3 separate regions of the Homo sapiens genome follow, and all the other regions are linked to region 1. Evidence: fine-mapped expression QTL. A gene starts in region 1. Each other region holds a variant in brackets. All regions are shown on one strand. Distances are between the middles of the regions. Region 1 holds the start of SLC30A4 (solute carrier family 30 member 4). Region 2 has its middle 18 kb from the start of TRH-GTG1-9. Region 3 holds the start of LOC124903483 (a long non-coding RNA gene).

Region 1 (2,761 bases):
ATTTAAGAGATGACATGTAAGAATCATCTCCCTGCTTTTATGTCACTTTGTAAACTGTCACTGAGAAGTTAGTAGTTATACTGACGTGATTGAAAATAACCTCTAAACTAAGAATGTATCTTATATTGAGAACGGATTGTTCGTATAATTAAAAAATGAACAAGAAAACCAGGCTCATAGAACTTTGGCGGAGTCCTCTGGTTCATTTCAGGCCCTTCTTACGAGGCAAAAATTTCATGTTAGTTGGTAATTAATTTTGCAAATCTCTTGGCTATAAATACAAAAGGAAATCGTATAAAAGAAACCACTTAGGTCAAATGTAGAGGAAAAAAATGCTGGGACTGTAGATGTGGCTCTTCCATTAACTCCCTAAGTGGCCCTCACGACTTATTCCACTGGTTTGTGCCCTGGAAATCCTTACATGTAAAAAAAAAAAGGAGGTGGAGCAGGTGTTCAGTAAGGTCCCTTCATACTGTAAAATTCTATGATCTTAAGTTATTTACGATCATTTACTATTTTAAACGTTGCGAAAATTAACCTGGTATTTTACCAGACCTTTGTAAAAAGAGGAAGTTACATGACATACAATGAAGATAACGTCCTTAACTTTACGGTAGATGACAGTGGTTGAACAACTAGAAGAGAAAGTCAAAGTTATCTCGGGGAGTTTATATTGTACTTAGATTGAGCTGCACTTTGGAACCGTGTGGCCTTTTCACATGAGATCAGTGTCTTGATAAATACAAACTTCCTGAAAAGATGGGTTAAACCTCAAAGCCTGTGTAACTACAGCTTGACAAAGACTCTCGAGGAAAGGTAAACGGAAAGTGAGTTGGCAACACAACTCACCTACAAGTTCTCCAATCATGAAAAGCAAGTACAGAACGGCAGCAATGGTCAACCTGGCTTTCACCTTTCTCTGCTTCAGTATCTCTCTCTGTTTGCTGCAGTTGTCACAGGAGTCCACCTTCAAACTCAGCTGACTGTTGGTCAAAGGTAAGTCTTGGTCCAGTAAGGAATCATCGTCGGCCTGGAGGGTCGGGTGCGCCCCGTTAACAGGCCTTTCCGGGGCTTCGGAACCGTCATCGGCCACCACAACTCGAAGTTTGTTGAACCGAGAAAGCCCCTCGTCCCCCGCCTCATCCGAGAAGTCAAAGGCGCTGGTGTCATTTAAAAACAGCGGCGCATCATCCTTCCTTAGCATAGATTTGAGGCGCTTCCACGCGCCAGAGCCGGCCATGGCAGAGGCTGAGCGGCCGCGGTGCGGAACGGCTTGGGGGAGGCGGACGGCCGGCGGCGCCTACTTCACCGGAGCGCCAGTTCTCGAGGGCAGTGCCGCGCGTCCCTCCCCATCCTGTGGAAAACGAAACACGTTATAAATTAAAGGCGCCCAACCCTGTCCTCAAGTTCCGAAGCCGCTGGCGGCGGGTCGCAGGGCCGACCCCGACGCTCCGCCGGGGCTCCGCGAGGGGGCGGCACATCTATTTAATACCTGGGGCGCTGCCGCGGGGCCGCAACTCATCTCCCCGCCCCCGGCCGGCTCAGCGAGGCGGGCTCGCGCTGCTCCACCCGCGGCCGCAGGAGAGTGGGGTCGTGCTCGCGCCCGCCGCGCCCGCTGCTGGAGGCCGGCTCCCCAGGTCTGACAGGTTCGGGGCCGGACGCCCACAGCCACCGCCTCTCCCCGCCCTGCGCGAGGCCACGCGCGTGCGCCGGGCGAGGCGCGCGAGGGAGGGGTCGGCGCGAGGACACGCAGGCCTGGCGCGCAGGGCTGGGGCGCCCGCGATGGGCGGGGGCGCGCGGCGCGCCCCGCCTCTCGCCCCGAGGCTGGATTGGGGGCCACTGCGCCGCCTCCGCCCAGGGGTCACTCACTGGCCAACTGAGGGGACTTTGGGCGGCCTCTTCCACCTTCCCAGGCTGGGAGGCAAGTGCGGTCGGAGGGTCACGCCGGGGGCTGGGCGTTGCTGCTAGGAGTTCCCTCCACCGAAAGTGTGTCTCAGGAATCTCGGGTCGGGATCTGGGTTGCGGGTGCTCGGCAGAAGACAAACCCAGCACTTTTCTTGCTAACTGAAAAGGCAAGCAGCTTTTCTCTCCTCGAATTGCTTGTCTCTGGCAAATTGGCAACATTTGCTGCAGTCAACTGGAGAGGGCAAGGCTGTCGTCGTCAGCAGTTCTGTGTCCTACTGTTTTTCAGCAAATATGTATTGTCCTCTTTGTGCTCTCTGCCGTGTTCCTTTTGCCTCCAAGGTATTTACGATATGGACTAAACTCAAGCATAGAAAATCTAGTACAGGCATACCTTGGAGATACTGCGAATTTGGTTCCAGACCACCGCAATATGACAAAGTGAGGTCTCACAAATGTTTCATGTCCCAGTGCAAATACAATCATGTTTATAATGTAGTCTATTAAGCGTGTAATAGCGTTATGTCTAAAACAATGTGCATACCTTAATTTAAAATATTGGGAGAGAGGAAGGAAAAAGTATATATACATTTGTTAATTGCTCTGAGGAAGGAGGGTCGCATGAGCCCAGAGGTTCGAGATTACAGTGAGCTATGATTGTGCCTCCGCACCCCTGCCTGGCGACAGAGTGAGACCTTGTCTCTAAAAATAAACAAGTAAATAAAATACATGACTGCTAAAAAAATGCTATCAGCTGGGCGTGGTGGCTCACGCCTGTAATACCGGCCCTTTGGGAAGCCGAGGCGGGCGGATCACCTGAGATGGGGAGTTCAAGACCAGCCTGACCAAAATGGAGAAA
Region 2 (2,761 bases), 300 kb before region 1:
ATGTGATCCTCCTGCCTCAGCCCCCTAACTCCCCAGTAGCTGGGACTACAGGCGCTTGACACCACACCCAGCTAATTTTTGTGTATATATAAATTTTGTGTATACATATATATATTTGTGTGTGTGTGTGTGTGTATATATATATATATATATTTTGTGTGTGTGTGTAGAAATGGGGTTTTGCTATGTTGCCCAGGCTATAATTTTTTTTTTAATCATTCAAGGTCTATTTTATCTTTATAATGAAATTAAGTCTATATAGACCAAAGAAAGAAAACAAGGGATGAAATGATAACAATAATTTACATTTTGAGGTGTTTACTTTTTGCCAAGCCTGGTGTTGGGGATTTTACATTCATTACTTCCATTCATGTGCAACAACTGAGTACTCAGCATTGGACCAAGAGCTTTACATCTATCACAAGCTAATCCTCCAAGCACTTATCAGATAGGCATTATATTAAAGATCAGAAAACTGAGGCCCAGGGAAGCTAAACGCAAAGCAGATCTTGCTAAAGCAAGATCATATACCTCCTCTGTGACTTTCTTTGTGTGTGGGGGGGAAATTGTATACTGTTATTTGTTCAAGTAATTTTTTTTTTTTTAGATGAAGTCTTGCTCTGTCATCCAGGCTGGAGTGCAGTGGTGTGATCTTGGCTCACTGCAACCTCAGCCTCCCAGGTTTAAGCGATTCTCCTGCTTCAGCCTCCAGAGTAGCTGGGACTACAGGCTTGCACCACCATGCCCAGCTAATTTTTGTATTTTTAGTAGAGACGGAGTTTTGCCATGTTGGCCAGGGTGGTCTTGAACTCCTGACCTCAGGTGATCCGCCCGCCTCGGCCTCCCAAAGTGCTGGGATTACAGGCATAAGCCACCATGCCCGGCTGTCCTGCAGCTTGTTAAGATTCGTTTTTATTTTTAATTTTTAATTTTTTAAGTTTTAAAATATTTTTTCTTTTAAAAAATAAGAGAAAAGGTCTCACTATGTTGTCCAGGCTGGTCTCAAATTCCTGGGCTCAAGCGATCTGCCCACCTTGGCCTCCCAAAGTGCTGGGATTATAGGCATGAGCCGCTGTGCCCAGCTGGTTGTTGAGGTTTGATTCATTTTCCTTTTTCTCTCTACACTGCGTTTTGGATAGTTTATATTGCTATATCTTCAAGTTCACAGTTAATCCCACCCAGTCTAATTTTTTTATATCGGATATTATATTTTTAATCTCTAGAAGTTCCATTTATATCTTTTTATATTGTGTTTCTCTCATTATGTTTATGTTTTCTTTTACATTTTTTTTTCTTTTTGACACAAGGGCTTACTCTGTTACCCAGGCTGGGAGTAGTGGTGTGTTCAGGGCTCACTACAGCCTCAACCTCCTGGGCTCAACTGATCCTCCCCACTCAGTCTCCCAAGTAGCTGGGACTACAGGCACATGTCACTGTGCCCAGCTAATTTAAAAATTTTTGGTAGAAATGGAGTCTCATTAAGTTGCCCAGGCTAGTCTCAAACTCCTGGGCTCAAGCATTCCTCCCACCTTGACCTCCAAAAGTGCTGAGATTACAGGCATAAGCCACCGTGTCTGGCCGCCTTTTACATTCTTAAGAATATTTATAATATTTATGT[T/C]AGCTGTCTTAAGGTTCTTGTCTGCTAATTCCATCTTCTTATAGTTTTGAGATTTATACTGATTGATTTTCCTTTTGATTATGGGTTATATTTTTCTACTTCTTTGCATATTTGGTAATTATTTTCTTGTATGCCAGACTCCATGAGTTTTACATCATTAGGTGTTGATATTGTGGTATTTCTTTAGAGTGTTGACATTATTCTGGCATGTGGTTAAAATTACTTGATGTTGCTGGGCATGGTGGCTCATGCCTGTAATCCCAGCATTTTGGGAGGCTGAGGCAGGTGGATCACGAGGTCAGAAGTTCGAGACCAGCCTGGCCAACATGGTGAAACCCTGTCTCTACTAAAAATACAAAAATTAGCGTGGCATGGTGGTGCACATCTGTAATCTCAGTCACTAGGGAGGCTGAGGCAGGAGACTCGCTTGAACCCGGAGGCAGAGGTTGCAGTGAGCCAAGACATGCCACTGCACTCCAACCGGGGTGACAGAGTGAGACTCTGGTTCAAAAAAAAAAATTACTTGGGGTTAGTTTCAAACTTTCAGGGCTTACTAACCAAAGCATGATCCTTCTGGCTAGTAGTAACACAAACTACTCACAGCCCTGTGTGAGCTCCAGAAATTGTTTAGTTTACTACATTCTGGTGGTCCTTTACCCGGCTTCATGGTGATTCACTGGATGTATACATAAGTTACTTCTCAGCCAAAGACTCAAAAAGATTCCTCTGCAGATTTCTGGTGTTCTCTGTCTTTGTAAACTGGCCAATCCCAGGGCTCACCTCATTTGTTCTCTTTCTCTCAGAGATCATAGTTATATGTTGCCTGTTGTCCAATGTCTGAAAGCCACTGTTTCATATATTTTATCCAGTTTTCTAATTTTCCAGAAAGAGAATTATTGTAAGTTAATTTTTGACAGGTGAAAATGTTAAGTCTGTTGACAGATTTTTCATGACTTCTTCAATTTAATTAACAGTAATAGGATTTGGGGGACTTTCAATTTCTTCTTGAGCCAGATGTAGTAAGTTACTTTCCTAGAAATTGGTCTTTTTCTTCAAGTTTTTAAATGCTGTTGATAGAATTATCTTATTAACTTTTAAACCTCTGTCTTATTTATAGCTGTGCCCCTAGTTTCGTTTGTATCT
Region 3 (2,761 bases), 65 kb before region 1:
TGTAGTGAGCCAAGATTGTGCCACTGCACTCCAGCCTGGGCGACAGAGCAAGACTGTCCCAAAAACAAAAACAAAAACAAAACTTATTTTCTCATGAGTTGTTATAATTTAATTTTTAAAATGATGACAATTTAATAACTGCTTTGCAAAATTTCTGAAAATTCCACAATTAGCTCTTGCAAGCAGTACAAACTCAATCCAGCAAACCATTAGCACCAGGAAGAAAGGAAGAGGCACCAAACCCCAGACTCCAAGAGATGCATTCACAGGGCTGTGTACCCTCTCCCAGCATCCATCTGTCACCCTCCCTCTGTCTGGACACCATCAGTCTGGGCAGCAGGTTGTGGGCAGCAGGCCTCAGAATCCCTGTGTGGGGTCAGCCCCAGTGAGAGCAGAGCCTGGCCCCAGGCAGCCCCTCCCACTCAGCAGACCCGCTCTTTCGCGGCCTGGACCTGGGGACCTGGTGCGGGCCCAGAACCCAGCCCCCGGACACCTACCCTGGCAGGCCTAGAGCAAGGAAGTTTCATGGCGCAATGTTCTTCCCCTTGAAGGTGTGAAGCCCTGTGAGGGCTGGAATTTCCACATTGCTCAGATAGTGGGCTTGCTCAGTCCTCCGCAGTGAAGAAAACAAAAGAGAACAAGTGGCCACGGCCTCTTTCTAGGCATCTCTTTATTCCTCTGGGCTGCAAGGGGCCTGCATTGGGTCTGAACAGAGGTGAAACAGAGGAAAGCTTTGAGGGTGCAACTCAGCCTGGAGCCATTTCTGGACAGTGAGAATGAACAGCAGTGATGACGTCATTCACCACATTCCACATGCGCTCGTCTTTGCACTAGGCCTTGGAGGCATGAGGGTGGTGACTCATAGCGGTAAAAACCCTGTCTTGGCTACCTCAGGAAATGAGTGGAATCTGTGGCTTGACGTTCCTGTATTCTTGCTGATGAACCACTCACGATGTCCACGTAGTGGCTCCTGCCAGGCGCTTGTGAAAGTTGGAGAAAAGAGGTCGCCTTCCCACCATGCCCACAGTGTGCCTCGGCCCCTTGTTCATGGCCCTCGGCAGCAGATGCCTTTCCTTTCTCTCATGCGCACAGGCCAGGCCAGCCCAGCCCACCAAGCCCCCTCCCGAGCCCCCTCTTGGAGGAGCCTCCTCTACACGTAGGGCTCTCCCTGGGGGTCTTCCTTTGAGTGTGGGGTTTATGTGCACTGATTTCTAAGATCAAAAGGCTAAGACCTTGCCATCCATTCATTCATTCAGCAAGGGGGGCGGGGGTGCTGGGAGGAAGCAGGAGGACAGAAGTTTTAAGCAGTCACAAAATATAATGAATGAAAACAAAACCAAAAAGAGGACT[A/C]AGGGAAGGGAGGTGGAAAAATACCAAACCCCTGTTCTACCCTCTTCTGAGACCCTTCGCTGGCAGGTGCCCTTGTAAACAGTGAAACAGCCGTCCCAGGGCCTGCGAGGTAGTGCCACTGTCTTAATCGGTCCGCAGGTTACTTCTCAGAGGGTGTTTCCATGGATTCTACTGGGTCCTCACCTGTTTCTGGGCAACCTCACCCCAGCTTCCTGCCTTGTGATAAAGATCTTTTTATTTCTTTATTTTGAGCAGTCACTTTCCCCTAAAAGATTAATATGTTGTTCTCACCAAGAGGCCCAGCTCTAGCTATATACTACCTGTTTGTAGTGGTTGAAAGTTTAATATCTCTTTAGCATCCCTTACAAAATATTTTGGGAGGTTTAGTTTAAATTCAGGCACAGCCTGTGGAAGGCTCAGACGCAAGGCTAGGGCGCCATCTCCTGGTCGATTTTGAATATGACAAAATTGAACTTGGATTGAGACTCGTGTTAATAGAGGTGAAAATCAGCTGATTTAAGTTATAGGTGGAAAGGCGTGCGCAGAAACACATGTAACTAATAAAGCACTTTGTCAGAATCTATAAAGAACTCTTACAATTTAATATAAAAAATCTTAGCGATTGGGCTGTTAAAAAATCAGTAGAAAAATAAGCAAGAGGCTTAAAGGGGCAATTTCTAAAAGAGGATATCAAATGCACCATAAATATATGAAAGATGTTCAACTTTTTATTCTTCGAGACTACTGGTGGAGGACAAGGCGGAGGAAAGCCCAGGAAGCCTGTATACGCTGTAAAGACCCTTTCAGGTAATTCAGATTTTACCCACTAGAGGGCGTGCCACTCACTTTAGTTGTTTTAAATTTGCCCAAGGGAAATATGCAAAATAAAACCGCAATGAGATGCACTGCACTGCAGCCTGCCAAGTTGGCAAAAATGGGGGCAGCGGGTACTCTCATACACTGCTGGAGAAAGTGCAAATTGCTATACCTTTGAAAAATTGTTTGGCATTATCTAGAAAACAGTTAACGCATAGGCGTATTCTATGTCATAGCAACTTCACTTCTTGATATATGTTCAACAAAAATGTGAGTCCATGGACACTAAGAAGCATACAAGATTGCTTATAACAGCATTATTGGCAGGTAATAGCAAGAACTGGAAACAATTCAAATGCCCACGAAGAATAGGCTGGAAAAATAAATGGTAGTATATTGATGCAGTGGAATATCTAACGGAAAAACAGACAAGCCAACAGAATCTGCAGCTACAAACGGCAACAATATGGATGGATGGATTTTATGAACATAATGTTGAGCAAACGAAGCCAGGTATAAAATAATCATAATCATATATAAAGGTCAAAACAGAAAAAACATTTTATAGTGCTAGATGTCAGGATAATGGTACATT

What was found.
Region 2: its variant is fine-mapped to the expression of SLC30A4 in whole blood (TOPMed, PIP above 0.99).
Region 3: its variant is fine-mapped to the expression of SLC30A4 in blood mononuclear cells (TOPMed, PIP above 0.99).

Annotation. Positions count from the first base shown.
Region 1 is chr15:45,521,115-45,523,875 of GRCh38, forward strand. It overlaps SLC30A4 (solute carrier family 30 member 4), which reads right to left and starts at 1,641. Exons shown (of 8, transcript NM_013309.6): 1 at 1,493-1,641; 2 at 850-1,354. The coding sequence starts at 1,240. It also overlaps the pseudogene HMGN2P46. RefSeq lists a silencer at 1,344-1,833.
Region 2 is chr15:45,218,165-45,220,925 of GRCh38, forward strand. No RefSeq gene overlaps it. Among named protein-coding and RNA genes, the nearest start is that of TRH-GTG1-9, 18 kb to the left of the region's middle. The variant T/C (reference allele first, on the strand shown) is at 1,619.
Region 3 is chr15:45,455,942-45,458,702 of GRCh38, forward strand. The region is part of intron 1 of SLC30A4-AS1 (SLC30A4 antisense RNA 1); the gene reads left to right. It overlaps LOC124903483 (a long non-coding RNA gene), which reads right to left and starts at 567. Exons shown (of 4, transcript XR_007064616.1): 1 at 498-567. RefSeq lists an enhancer at 773-822. The variant A/C (reference allele first, on the strand shown) is at 1,351.